Homo sapiens: one gene and its partner. The protein of the gene in region 2 interacts with the protein of the main gene of each other region in a biochemical or structural test. Each region holds a gene or a part of one and is shown on either strand. Other genes may lie near its edges.

Evidence for each region.
Region 1: the proteins of TOP3A (region 2) and TDRD3 are reported together in a solved structure, tested with the Homo sapiens proteins (one study listed by BioGRID).

Annotation. Positions count from the first base shown.
Region 1 is NC_000013.11:60,392,686-60,400,223, reverse strand, and holds the start of TDRD3 (tudor domain-containing protein 3), read right to left. Parts: upstream 3,005-7,538; 5' UTR 2,860-3,004; coding exon 2,819-2,859; intron 1-2,818. UniProt on the Homo sapiens protein: Scaffolding protein that specifically recognizes and binds dimethylarginine-containing proteins. Plays a role in the regulation of translation of target mRNAs by binding Arg/Gly-rich motifs (GAR) in dimethylarginine-containing proteins.
Region 2 is NC_000017.11:18,276,976-18,283,996, forward strand, and holds part of TOP3A (DNA topoisomerase 3-alpha), read right to left. Parts: intron 5,867-7,021; coding exon 5,723-5,866; intron 3,684-5,722; coding exon 3,561-3,683; intron 1,383-3,560; coding exon 700-1,382; intron 1-699. UniProt on the Homo sapiens protein: Releases the supercoiling and torsional tension of DNA introduced during the DNA replication and transcription by transiently cleaving and rejoining one strand of the DNA duplex.

The DNA.
Region 1 (7,538 bases), on a different chromosome or scaffold from region 2:
AAAATTGTTATCTAGATAAATTCAGAGTCAAATTTCTTCTCCCCGTGAAGTTATTCCATGCATATAATTAAGCTTTACAAGGTACCATTTAGTGCATTATTTAAACATTATCACTACTCTGTAGAAAGCCCTGGAACATTCAAGTTCAAATCAGCAAAATCTAATAGTTTGTGTGCTACTGGCCATTGAAGAACAAAAATTATTTTAAGTCCGCCAGGTAGCTACTTTTGAAGTTATATTTTAAAATACTGATTTTTATAGGGGTTCTAATGAAGATTAAAACCTTAAGAAGGAAAAAAACTGCGCTTAAAAATAATGTAAACTTGAACAGATTGGTCTACATAGATCTTCTGTACCCCCCTGAAGATCACATTTTCAGAATTGTAAACTTTTCAGCACTAAATATTTCCCTAATCTGCTATTTTAGGTGAAGCCTATAGAACAGATTTAACAATAGTGTGTCCATGTTTTAGCATCTACTTCTTTTTAGCTTCTACAAGTAACTAAGTACATAGATTTGAATACTAAGAAAAATGGTTTGTCAGTGACAGTTAACAGAGAACCCCAAGTGTAAGAGCAAACTCAGGATATAAGAACTAAAATGAGTTGGTGAAAGCCCTTCAGTCAGAAATTTTCCCTCCAGTGCTCTTTTCTGCCTTTAAACCTTTGTGATTCTAAATTTTAACATAGTAAGTCCCCAATTAAAGACCTAGTAGAAGCCACCTGAAAGCCTAGGAGATCCTCATGCCTAGTCTGTTCGAGACCTAGCAGGAATTACATGAAACTCACAATTCCTAGAAAGATAGTGTTTTTAGCCCCGCAGATTACTACTGCCTTTATGAGTCACTGCCATACAGAAGCAGCACAGACAGGTGGGAGAAACATAAACAGTTAAGTTGCAATATAAAGTAGCAAATGCTACAATATAACATTGCTGAAGATTTATAACAATATAACGAAGCAGGGTGGGACTCTACCTAAGCTTCTGCAGAGGCCCTGCCCAGAGAATTCTGACTGGCAGGGGCATTCCAAGGTCAACTGTATTAGACTTTACAGAGAACCTACAATCTGGTGCATTTCTTGACAATCCAGATAAGGAGAAAAATAAGACTCACTTCCCTGCCCTGGAAAAGCATAAGAGGCCAGAGAAAACAAAGTCAACACGTGTTCGGGACCTAAAAAATGAGACTAATCTTTCCAAAGGAGGGGGGGTCATGTTGGAAAGCAGTAAAATACTGAGTTTGTAAATGAAAATATTACTAGTGTGAAGGATCAACGCTCAACCTAATGAGAAATGGGGAGAAAGGCAAATGAAAGAGGGATCCAAGATTATTCAGGACACCCTTGTGGGTAAAAAAACTGAAAGAAGAGATTCCTATTGAACAGAAACAAAACTGAAGACAGTGTTTTTAACTCTACAATCTTTTACGCCCATGCTGTTCTGCGAAAAAACTGTAACAACAATAACGCATAAGCGTTAAAGGAACCAGGCCCAGAGCCAGGCCCTCTGTGCTCAACATTCAACTCCACCACTTTCTAGCTATGTCATTTTGGGAAAGTTACTTAACAGCTCTTTGCCTCAGTCTCCTCACCTGTAAAATGGGGTGTATAATAACACAAGTGCCTTTAAAATCAGGAGGGGCTTCTTCAAAGCACAGTTGTGATTATATCCCTCTACTGATCAAAAACTTTATTCACAAAATCAAATCCACATCTTTCACGAACCATATAGATCTTGTGTAGGTTCTGCAAAACAATAAGCGCTTCCCTGTGTCATCTCCAGCAGCTCTGTGCTAGAAAGCCTTTTCCTTACCATCTTTCCAAGTCCACTTTAGGAAAGTAACTCTCCCTCCCATTCCACAGTGCACTCATCTGTTCCTCTGTACGTACGGTTTATCACTATTCCCCCTGGTTTTGTTTGGTCTTTTAATGCCTCACTCTTTCTCCTAAAGCAGTAATTGCAGAGAGCCGTTGCAAATCTTTTTCATCCCCGTTCCTACCCTTCATCCCAGAATGTGCCTGTGCAAGCCTGGGAAAAGCGTTACTGAATTAAACGGGATGATTACAACCGTAATGGCCGCAATTCCAGAAACTGCCTAATTTCGCATAATTTTGTATTGTTTTCAAATCCTGAAAATCTTGACACGAAAGGCCTCTTAAAATCAGAACACCATCCTTTCAAGAAAAGTTCTACCGAGCACCCCCACGAGTTGACATTGCGGTCATTCTTAGCTCCAGAAGTTGTGTGTGTGCCGCGGAAGGCAGATTCACACTGGTCCACACTGTACTTTGAAATAAGGGGTAAGAAGAGGCGGCTCCGGCCGCAGCGCGGGCTGTGCTCTGCTCTGCCCTCAACTTCCTATGGGCCCGCGGGCTCCGGCCGCGTTCGTCCCTCTCCGCCGCACTTCGTTCCCAGCCCTCGCCTCCCGATCCCGCTGCAGAAACACCCCCTCCCCGGAGAAGCCGCGCGGACGGCGCTGCAGGTCCTCCCCGGCGCTCCGGTCGGCCGGGGTCTGGGCCGCCACCCGCCCGGCTCGCGGCCCCCGGCCTCTCCCCAGGCCCGCCGCCCGCCGCCCGGGGCCCAGGCCCGCCGCCCGGGGCCCAGGCCGCCGCCGCCGCCGCCTCCAGGGGACCTAGGGGAACTCGCAGGGCTCCGCGTGGCGCCGGGGGCGGAGCCGGCCCGAAGGGCCCGGGGAGAGGCCGGGGGCGGACGACAGCCTCCGCCTACCCCGACACGCACCCCGCCGCCCCCAACCCAACCTCCCTGGGGCCCCGGCCCGCACCCGCGGCCCGGCAGCCGGCGGGACTCGCCACTTACCAACCCGCCTGGGACAACGCCGCGCCGGCCACCTGGGCCATGGTAGCTGCTTAGGCCGGGGGTGGTGGGGGGCTGGGGTGGGGGTGATGGGGAGGCCTCCTACTTGAGACCCCCCCCCTTAAAAAAAAAAAAAGAAAAGAAAAGAAAAAACTCCTCTGGTCGGCTCTGCAACTGGGCATGCTCAGTGCGGCCGGCGCTTCCGCGTGCGGGTTCCGCTCGCCGCGTTTTCTGAGCGGCCGTAGGGGCCGGCCTGGTGTGGGGCTCCCAGGCTGCGGAGCTCCGGGACCTGATCCACCAAACACCGGCTGGTGGCTGGAGTCAGGACGGTTCAGGGACTTTGCCTCTTCCCCGAAGGCTTTTACTTGTTTTGGGGGGCGCTTTTCTGAGTTGCACACCTTGGAAAGTCGCGAGGAGGTTCTTCGTAGAGCAAAAGTGTGGCGTTTGCAGCGCCCACAGGCGGCCACCTCAGAGAGGGCAGGATAAGGCCTGAGGAGACTGACGGGTTGGCTGCGAGGGAACGCGTCCAGGACCGCGCTAAAAAGGTCACGTTGCGGGCAGCAAAACTCAGAGGTGTCCCCAGCCCATTCTGCACAAAAGTTTACTTTCTTATAAACACTCGTTCCCTTCACCTCGCCTTTTGGTCCGCCCGGACGCAAAGAAAAAATGCAGCTCAAGCTTTTTTGAGTCCCCGCGGGCAGATCGAGTTGCCCCAGTCGGACACCACAGTGAAAATGCCCTGGTCAGCCCAAGAAAACCTGCTTTTAGGGGACATGGGGAAATGGGGCAGTTGTGTCAGTGCTTGTTTTTCCTGTTGCCCTCCCCCTGGGACCATCCGTGTCCTAGCGCGGCCCTGCCACCTTGGCTCTGTACTGCCAGATCTGGCAACCACAGCCGCTTCCCCGCCGATGCCCTTCGCCCGCGCTGTAGAGGGCTGGGGCGCAGGGTGGGTCCCTGAGTGGGCATGCGCGCCGCCGTCGCCCAGCGGCACGGCGGACGCTACCGCGCGATTGGGCGTCCGTGACTCACGCTGGCCAATCAGAGAGGAACAGGCGGAAGGGTACGCGGGCCCAAGAGGCGCTCCCTAAAAGTTTGCTCCACCTTCTTGGTCTTTCACCTCTGCGGCGTCCCGTATTGCGGGGAAAAAGGCTTCTAAGGGGCAGCGTCCCCATCTGCCAGGTCAGGGGAAGAAGACTGTTAGGAACTTAATCCCTATCTCCGCCGCTTGCCGCTGCCCCTGCTTCTAAGGGCATCATCAAAAACAGACTTGGAGCAGAGACTGCGGAACTGGGCAGAGGCGCTCTTGGGATTGGGGAGGAAATTGGCAGTTACGGAAGGAAGGGGATAATTGCCCTGGGTGGAGCTAAAATTCCTTAATACAGATTTTTCTCATTTCAGCTGGGGTATTCCGTTTGGTCTTCCCAAAAGTCATAGTTATAAAATCGCGATGCTTTCGTTAGATGGAATGCTATTGAGATTTGCTCCCAAGTATATTGTTTAGATAATTTTAGATCACAAGTAGCTCCATCCTGTTCGCTGCAATGTGCAGTAGTATGCAGTGTTTAAGTCATACGTATGCTACAGGTATATTTCAATTTATAGTCATCGGCCATCATATACAGGAGCCAGGAATAGATATGCCATTTTAAAGGTAAATAGATGACTCAAAAATAAATTGCCAATAATTTTTATTGGCGGTTAGAATTTTCTGTTACCAATTATTTACATTTTTCAGTTAGTGTAACCTGTTAACTATGAAAATATGTTGTACCAATCATCAGAATTTCTCACTGGTTATAAAGTCATTTGTTCTCACATGTCGTGTGATTCAGTAAGGATTTACCACTGCATGGTCCTTACAATAATAAAGTACTCCACAAAACACTAAATTCTCTTAAAGAATGGGTTTTTTACTGGAGAAATGTGGGACAACATGAGCATCCAAAAAATGGTGACAATAATTGATGAAACACATTGAATTTCTTCGGAGTGCCACCAAAAATGAAGGAGGACAAAATCTTTTCTTTCAGAGCAATACAAGATAGTAAATGTAGAACAAATGATAGAATTAGAAAAATCACAGTTTTCCAAGTCAACCACAATTGATAGAGGAAAATTTATCAGACGATACTAAAAGCCACAGGGTAAAAGACTAGGAGTACAGGATCTTCACATGGTCTCAAAGTTTCAAGCCATAACTTACTTATTACAGAAGGGAAAATGTAGCTTTACCTTTTAAAAAAAAAAATCACTGCCTTAAGAGATCAAAGCTAGAATCACTAATAATGGGACAATCTAATGTATTCTGCTTACTGATGTAATGCAACTAGACATACACATCACTTAAGAAGTATTCTTGCCAAAATGGTTTAACCTGAGTTTAACCAAGCTTGTGGACAGTGGATCCTAAACCAACCCCCACACCCCCAAATCCATTTAGCAATGTCTAGGTTGTCACAATCTGAGGAGGTAGGAGTGTTGTTATGCATCTCATGGGATGCAGCAGGAATGCTGCTAAATATCCTACAAAGCACAGGACATCGCTGAACTCCAAAGAATGATGTGGCCCAGAATGTCAGTAATGCTAAGGTCTAGATGTAAGAAGAAATGTAAAGGACGTATAGGTGATATTTGAGCAAGTTAAACATGAAGACGCAGGCACATAAATCCACAATGAGGCATATTCTCCTCTGGCCTAGACTGTTAAAATGTAATTTAAGACTTTTTTTTTTTTGAGACGGGAGTCTCGCTCTGCCGCCCAGGCTGGAGTGCAGTGGCACGATCTCGGCTCACTGCAACCTCGGCCTCCCGGTTCAAGCGATTCTCCTGCCTCAGCTTCCCGAGTAGCTGGGACTACAGGAGCCTGCTACCGCGCCTGGCTAATTTTTTGTATTTTTAGTAAAGACCGGGTTTCACCGTGTTTGCCAGGATGGTCTGGATCTTGTGACCTCGTGATCCGCACGCCTCGCCTCCCAAAGTGCTGGGATCACAGGCGTGAGCCACCTCGCCCGGCCAGAAATAATTCTTTAGAAAAAAAAAAAGAAGGCTGGGCGCAGGGGCTCACGCCTGTAATCCCAGCACTTTGGGAGGCCAAGGCGGGCGGATCACGAGATCGGGAGATCGAAACCATCCTGGCTAACACGGTGAAACCCCGACTCCACTAAAAATACCAAAAAAAAAAAAAATTAGCCGGGCGCGGTGGCAGGCTCCTGTAGTCCCAGTTACTCCGGAGGCTGAGGCAGGAGAATGGCGGGAACCCCGGAGGCCGAGCTGGCAGTGAGCCGAGATCGCGCCATTGCACTCCAGCCTAGGCGACAGAGCGAGACTCTGTCTCAAAAAAAAAAAAAATATTATTTCAGATTTAAGAGATGCAAGAGACATGAAAACAAAATTCAATCCTGGATCTAAAAAATAAATGAAAAAAATAATTACTGGTGGCCAATTGCAGAAATTTGAATCTGGACTGGATATTGGATAGTATAATGGAATATGGTTTTCTTAAATGTGATAATGTTATTGTCCTTAAATTGAGAATTTTATGTCAAAACATTTATGGATGAAGAAGAATTGGATCTACAAGTTATTTGCAAATGAGTAAGAGAAATACATTTGTAAAATATATAAAACATATAAACATTGATACATGTATATAGGTAAGAAAGAGAAAGGAGGCTGAGGCAGGAGAGTCGCTTGAACCCAGGCGGCGGAAGTTGCAGTGAGCCCAGATCGCGCCACTGCACTCCAGCCTGGCGACAGAGCGGGCCTCCGTCTCAAAAAAAAAAAGGAAAAAAGAGAAAGGAGGTAAATATGGCAAAATATTAAAAATGGGTGAATCAGTTGGAGGAGGGTCCACATGTTTATTTTTTTTCTCTAGGTTTGAAATTTTCCAAAATAAAAAGAAGCGTGGATTACACTAATTTCACATCAAAATTTTAAATTGGAATTATGTTCTGTATAGATAATTTAGTGCCATGAAAAATGGTAATAGCTAACTAGATAAAATGAATTTCCATTTTTAATTAGATAAATCATTGATTTACAGAAAATAGAAAGTCTACAATGAGCTGAAGTTGGGGGAAACCCTAAGGGTAGAAAAAAAAATTGTTAGGTCCAAGAAAACAAAAACGAGGAATGAAATCTATTTCGAGTCTGTGGTAAATTAACAGAAGAGAGAGACTGAAAATCCATTCTCCTCTGTTTCGCCTCTTATCATTTTAGTAAAGGAAAAGTTTCTCAGACTGAAAAGGGTAAAAGAATATGGGTAAGTAAGAATAGAAGCTACAATAAAAAGTGAGATGATAAGAGTGCCTGGCCCTCTGAGGCAAATTACATCTTGTGACTGTAAGCCATTTGCATCCTACGGAATACTAAAATAACCTATGAATGACAGATGAGCCAGTGCCAGAGGGCCCTATTATATTTGAAATCACCTGAAGAACCTATAATTTAAAAGAATGCTAGTTGCACTCACTTATAAAATGAAACATCACAATTTAATGTATCTTCTGGATACATTTTAGATTCCCATACTCACTTTGATTTCAGTAAAAATCAGTCACTTTCCAACAGTTTTACCATGTGACTTTTCATAAGTATATACAAGAGGAATTGGCCTCTTTTGCTTTCACATCACAAGATACAGCTGTATATATTTTAGTTAATTCATTTCAAGCACTAAACTTTGCCATATTAAAGCCATTAAACTTACCATTTTAGCTATTTA
Region 2 (7,021 bases):
GAGTTCGAGACCAGCCTAACCAACAGGGTGAAACCCCCGTCTCTACTAAAAATACAAAATTAGCTGTGCGTGGTGGTGCATGCCTGTAATCCCAGCTACCTGGGAGGCTGAGGCAGGAGAATCATTTGAACCTGGGAGGTGGAAGTTGCAGTGAACCAAGATTGCACCATTGCACTCCAGTCTGGGCAACAAGAGCAAAACTCAGTCTCCAAAAAAAAAAAAAAAAAAAAAGAAATGAGGCTGATGCTTATGGTCTGCCAAGGGTCACGACAGCTGCAAGGGCACATGGCCATGGGACTGGGAAGGCCTATGTACTCATCCTGGTGTCTGTTGCTATGGGACCCTGAGCAATACCCACTTCATGTGTCTGGGTCTCACCTTTCTCACTTATAAGTAAAATTGTGATCATAATGCTTACCCAATGAGGATGGAAGATGCACAGGAAGTATACTTAGCATAGTGCCAGGCATAGGGCAAGTGACACCATTACTGGTAGCTACCCTTTAATTTGGAATGAGGACTGTACAATTATCACCTTGCTGAAAGTGATCAAGTGAGGAAAAGTGAGGTGCAAGGCAGCCCAGGTGCCCCTCCCAATCCCACCATGACCCTGCCTTGCCTTCTTTCTGCTGTCCCCAGTCTCTGAGGTAAACACCTGAAAACTGAAGGCAGGGATTCCCATGCCCCTCCCTGCCTCACCTGGAGCGGTGTTCTCATCGACCCACTGGAAAAAGCCACACTGCTGCTCTCTCGGCTTGGCACATGTGTGGAACTGGCGCCCCTTGTTGGGTCCATCCTTCTGCACAGTCCGTGTGACGGAGGGCTGGCTGCAAAGGCAGGATGTGCCACTACCACTGCCATCACCAGGGTTGCCAAACCCACCTAGGTGGATCCCTGGGCCTGGTGGGCATCCCAGGGAGGCGCCCAGGGGTCTATATGCCAAGGCAGGAGGCCCTCCTGCTCCCGGATTGGGGCTGTCTGCCCACAGGAAGAAGTTGCAGCTACCTCCGTTGCACTTAAAGAACTGCCGGCCCCGGTTGGGGCCCTCCTTACGGACAGTGAGCAGCACAGCCTCCTGGCCACAGTTGCAGGTCACAGAATTGCTTTCACCAGCAGCCGTGGGTGGTGGGAGGGTCTGGGCCAGAGCCTTTGAGGACCCAGTCTGTCTGCTGTCAGCAGGCTGGGGGTGCTGGCTGTTGTCCATCCTGTTCAGGGACTGGTTAGCCTGCAGGCGGCCAGAGGGCTGGCTAGCCCTGGGGGGGCCCCCTGAAAATCTCAGGTCCAGGATCTCCCTCAGGGTGTCGTCGCATCCGCCGATGCAGCAAACAAACTCCAGAGGCATGGTCGGGGGAAGGCTACCGCGCTTAAACTTTAACTTTAACCTAGTGAGGCCAGAAGATGAGAAAAAACATTAACAACCAGATGCCAGCTTCTCCTTAGTCCAGTGAGGGCTGCTTTAGCCCTAGGCCTCTCTCCACCATTCCTTATGCATCAGGAAGCCCACACAAGTCCCCTGTGAGGCCCTCTATCAGCCCACCACAAGCCCCCACCAGTCATCACAGGAGTGGACAGTGGGAAACAGTGCAGATGAAATCTAAGATCCCAGTAATTCACTAAAATAAAAACACCTCTGAGAAGTCCCATGTCTCTGTATCAGCAGTTCTCCAAGTGTGGTTCCAGGGTGCCTGAGCCCTTTCAAGGAGAGTGCAAAACTCTTTTATAGGCCAGGTGTGGTGGCTCAAACCTGTAATCCCAGCACTTTGGGAGGCTGAGGCGGGCGGATCACAAAATCAAGAGATTGAGACCATCCTGACCAACATGGTGAAACCCCATCTCTACCAAAAATACAAAAATTAGCTGGGCATGGTGGCACGCGCCTGTAGTCCCAGCTACTCGGGAGGCTGAGGCAGGAGAACCTCTTGAACCTGGGAGTCAGAGGTTGCAGTGAGCCAAGATTGTGCCACTGCACTCCAGCCTGGTGACAGAGCAAGACTCTGTCTCAAAAAAAATTCTAAGAGGTTATGTCTATTTTGCTCTTATTCTTCCATGTGTATACAACGGAGTTTCCTGGAGGTTCCAGCACATGCAATGACTCAGCAGGCTGACTGCAGAAGCAGATACGGGAATCCAGCTCTCTTCTATTAAGCCAGACATACAAATTGCAAAATGTAAAACAATGTCATTAATGTCATTATTATTTTGCTTTTGAAAATAGGTATTTTATTACCCTAAAAAACAAGTTATTTACAGTAGTATGCAATGCATTTACTAGAAATAAATTATTAAAATTTTTTTTTTTGAGACAGAGTATCATTCTGTCGCCCAGGCTGGTGTGCAGTGGTGCAATCTCGGCTCACTGAAAGTTCTGCCTCCTGGGTTCACGCCATTCTCCTGCCTCAGCCTGCCGAGTAGCTGGGACTACAGGCGCCCACCAGTACGCCTGGCTGATTTTTTGTATTTTTAGTAGAGACGGGGTTTCACCATGTTAGCCAGGATGGTCTCGATCTCCTGACCTCGTGATCCACCCACCTCGGCCTCCCAAAGTGTTGGGATTACAGGCGTGAGCCACCACGCCTGGCCATTTTTTGTATTTTTAGTAGAGACAGTGTCTCACCATGTTAGCCAGGATGGTCTCGATCTCCTGTCCTCGTGATCCGCCTGTCTCGGCCTCCCAAAATGCTGGGATTACAGGCCTGAGCCACCAGGCTCGGCCTATTCATTTATTTCTAGAGACAGGGTCTGGCTCTGTCATTCCAGGCTGGAGAGCAGTGGTGAAATCATGGCTCACTACAGCCTAGACCTCTAGGATCAAGCGATCCTCCTGCCTCAGCCTCCTGACCAGCTTGGCCTATAGGCATATGTCACCACATCTGGCTAATTTAAAATTTTTTTTGGCCAGGTGCAGTGGCTCACATCTATAATCCCAGCACTTTGGGAGGCCAAGGTGGGTGGATCACTTGGGGCCAGGAGTTCGAGACCAGCCTGGCCAACATGGTGAAACCCTGTCTCTACTAAAAATACAAAAAGTGGTCAGGCATAGTGGTGCATGCCTGTAATCCCAGCTACTCAGGACGCTGAGGCAGAAGAATCACTTCAACCCAGAAGGCGGAGGTTGCAGTGAGTCAAGACTGCGCCACTGCACTTCAGCCTGGGCAACCCAGCGAGACTGTCTTAAAAAAAATTTTTTTTTAAATAAAAATTTTTTTTTTTAAAGAGATGGGGTCTTGCTACGTAGCCCAAGCTTGGATGTTGTATTTAATATGTGAATAATTTCCTAAGCCTGGTGTAGCAATCATCTATCTGGAGAGGGCAGGGAAAGAGCCCTTCATGGTTCTTTGCCCATGGCCCACTCCAAACAGGGTCATACCTGCCAAAGCAGTGACAGCATGGAACACAACAGAACTGGACCAGCCCTGCTGAACTGGCTGCTGCAGAACACAGCTACGCCCCTGCAGGGCCTGAGTGGAATCCCCGACACTCCTCTCTGGGTTCTGGCAGGAGCAAGGGAAAGATGGTGTACACACTCCAGAGGAGGCACCTGACTCAGGTGCCCAGCTCACCTGTACACAGGGTGTGGCTGACAAACTGGACACACACTGCTGTCCCTGCTGGCCTCCAGCACCGAGTCAGGAAGCCACACAGCTGAGCGACACTCTGGGAAACCCATGCAGCTGAGGTAGAACCTGGGGACAAAGTGCCATGTCAGATGATAGGAGTGCAGGAGATGCTCTCCGCTGTTGGCCATCAGCTAAGGCAGCCTTTCCTCAGCTGCCCGAGGACAACATTCCCTTTTCTGGATGACACTTAACTGGATACACAAGCACTCATATTGAATTGATTGGGAAAAATGAGCCTTCTCACATCCCAAAAGCACAAAGCAGCTATTGCTGGCCCTGCTTTCTATTTAGAAAACCAACAACCAACCAAGCTGACGCCAGGGGCTCTGTGCTGTGCACTCACACATTCTTGCCTTTCTGCCTCGTGCCAAGTCTGGGCAGTGTCAGGGGCCCCCTCAGTTTGCATGTGAGTAAACAGTGGCTTGGTGTGGCCTGGAAACCTGCCCAGAGACATGCATGCATGTGTGGATGGGAGCCAGGAATGGAAACCCATCTGTTTGTGACAAAGCCTCACCTGCAACATCTACACCCCACCCACTGCCCATCCATCCCATCCCGGTCTCTCCTGGCCAATGTTTTTCAACACCTTGCAGTCATGAAACGTTAGGGTTTGACTAGCTAATATGCATGTGATTTACAAATTCCTCATGAGTGTGCCTGGGTACACTATGAAGGAAAAAAAAGCCCCGAACTCCAATCATTTAAATAAGAAATTTACAATCTCAGAAATGGAAATTAACAGATAAATCATGGAGTGGCAAATCCCACAAGATAATCTCCTGACCTTCTGGAGTAACTCAGAGAAGCATTACAAAAGAATAACAGAAGAACAAACGAATAACTAAAGAATAATAATAATTCTCCAATTCAGAGAATTGGAGAATTCAGAGCTAAAACAAAAGTAGTTATTCTCTCTCCTTATATTCCAATGAGTACTAATCCAATAACCTACCGATAGCAAGGAAAACCCATCGACAGCATTTATTAAGTGCTGAAATATACGCCCAGTCATTGGGCTAAGCCTAGAGTGGCACTGGCTTCTGTCTGTGAGTGACGCGAGCCCTGACACCTGCTTCCAGGTCTGGCCCATAGACCTCTTGTTTCTGAGAGCCTGGGTGGCCTTCTCTTCACTTGGGCCAGCCAGGTTAATGATGGCTGGAGGTGAGGAGTTGAGAAACCTCCTTTCTTATTCAGCAGCAAGGAGCACAGCAGTCCCAGGTGGGCCAGGCAGGATGGAAAAAGGCAGTGAAAACCCGGTTTCAAACTCTGCTGCCCACCACGGCTGCTTGACTCCAAGCAAGCACCTCAGCCCTCTAAGCTGCATAAAAATCCCTGCCTTGCAGGGTAGTTAGGAGAATGGGATGAGGTAATGCTTACAGAGCACCACCCTGCATTACACCAGTGAGGGACGGCACCTGATGAATGATGGCTGCCACCCCTCCACCTCGTCTTTCCCCGTGAACTTCCTCCAGTGGCCAGCCACTGGCTCCAACAACCTGATGTGAAGCTAAATTGCCCACTCAGATCTACTATATTTAAAGCGAAAAGGGAGTTGAGATTTTCAGGCCCCATTCAGAACTAAAACTAGGAGAGAACAAAAGTAGTATCTGCTGAGTATCTACAACACATCAGGCAATGTGCTATATAGTCCTGACCATTTTCACCAAATCCTCACCCTTAACACAGCCTTGTAAGTACTGACATTTTATAAAAGAAGAAATTGGGGTTCAGAGCAGGTAAGTAACTTGCTTCAGGCCACACCACTTATATGCGGCATAAGTGGCATTTGAACCCAGACCCACCTAGATCTGAAGCTCATGCTCCTCCATGTGTTACACATTGGGTATATGATGTCCTATCCACAGGGGACAAAAAAACCCCACTATCATTCAGTTTCTCACCTGCTCTGAATTCCCATAGTGCTTTACACCTCAAAGGCCTGATCCCACCCTGCTATGCTTTTAGGCCAACACCTTGCCTGCAGGTTGGCAACAACAGGCCTGTCTTGAAAGATTCCATGGAGTGAAATGGCAGGGTCTTTCGAGCTACGGCTGACACCGCAGGTGCTGGGGAGCAGAGGTGGGGGCAGAAGGCAGCGCACTCACCCGCCATTCTTCTTGGTCTTAAGGACCATGTCCTTGTTGCACTGTGGGCACTTCCTGATGGGCTCTGGCATGGCTGGGTAGATATCTTCTTGCTGGGCCAACTCTGTCCCATTCCCAAAGTACTGGGCCAAGGCCTCGTCCAATCTGAAGAAAAGGCAAAGACAGACACCCATCAGCCAGCAATCGCTGCAAAGGCACCTACAACACTCTTACATGCACACAACAGGCGTGACCTTGAGAACCAGCTGGTCAGTGAGCCGCAGGCCTCCTGCAGAGAACAGACGGCAGACAGAAGACTGAGCTCACCATGGGCCCTGGTGCCGAACCAACTCTTGGGAGGAGAGTCCAGATACAGGCAGATGCTTCTGCTTGTCACCAGCCCACATTAAAAAGTAAAACTGGGCCAAATGTGGTGGCTCACGCCTGTAATCCCAGGCCGAGGCGGGCGGATCACCTGAGGTTGTAATTTCGAGACCAGCCTGACCAACATGGTGAAACCCCGTCTCTACTAAAAATACAAAATTAGCCAGGCATGGTGGCGCATGCCTGTAATCCAAGCTACTCAGGAGGCTGAGGCAGGAGAATCGCTTGAACCCAGGAGGCAGAGGTTGTGGTGAGCCAAGATCACGCCATTGCACCCTAGCCTGGGCAACAAGAGCGAAACTCCATCTCAAAAAAAAAAAGTAAAACTGCACAGGGTCCATGTACAAACTCCAGGAGTGTCTGTCTGTATTAAGTCTAAACTAGCTCATGCCTGCCTTTTCACAACTGGCATGGGGTACTCTAAAGAACAGAAAATAACAAACTGTTATCTTCTATTACAGTCTCACAACACACATCAGACACCAGATGTATGGGAGTTTTCCCCATACACCAAGCAACTCTCCCGCCACACACCAGTTGGACATCCTCTAATTCAATTCAATTCTGACACTATGCACCTGGAGATCCATCTAACGGTTAAGGGCTCAGTCCCAGAAGACTGCTGCCCCAAATTCCCTCAGATGTCAGTCACAAATCCCAGGCTGTGACCTGTGCTTCTGACTGACTGGCTATAAACTGGGGTTCCTCAGACCCCCTCCTTGGTTTGATTCTCAATAGAGTGGCTCACAGAGCTCAGGGAAACACTTTACTTATGCTTACCCGTTAATTACAAAGGATCCAGGTGAATACCCAGATGGAAGCAATGCACAGGGCAAGGGATGTGGGGAAGGGGTAGCTTCCATGCCCTCTCCCAAACACCCACCCTCCAGGAGTCTTTACCTGTTTAGCTATTTGGATGTGCCCCAAACCCAATTG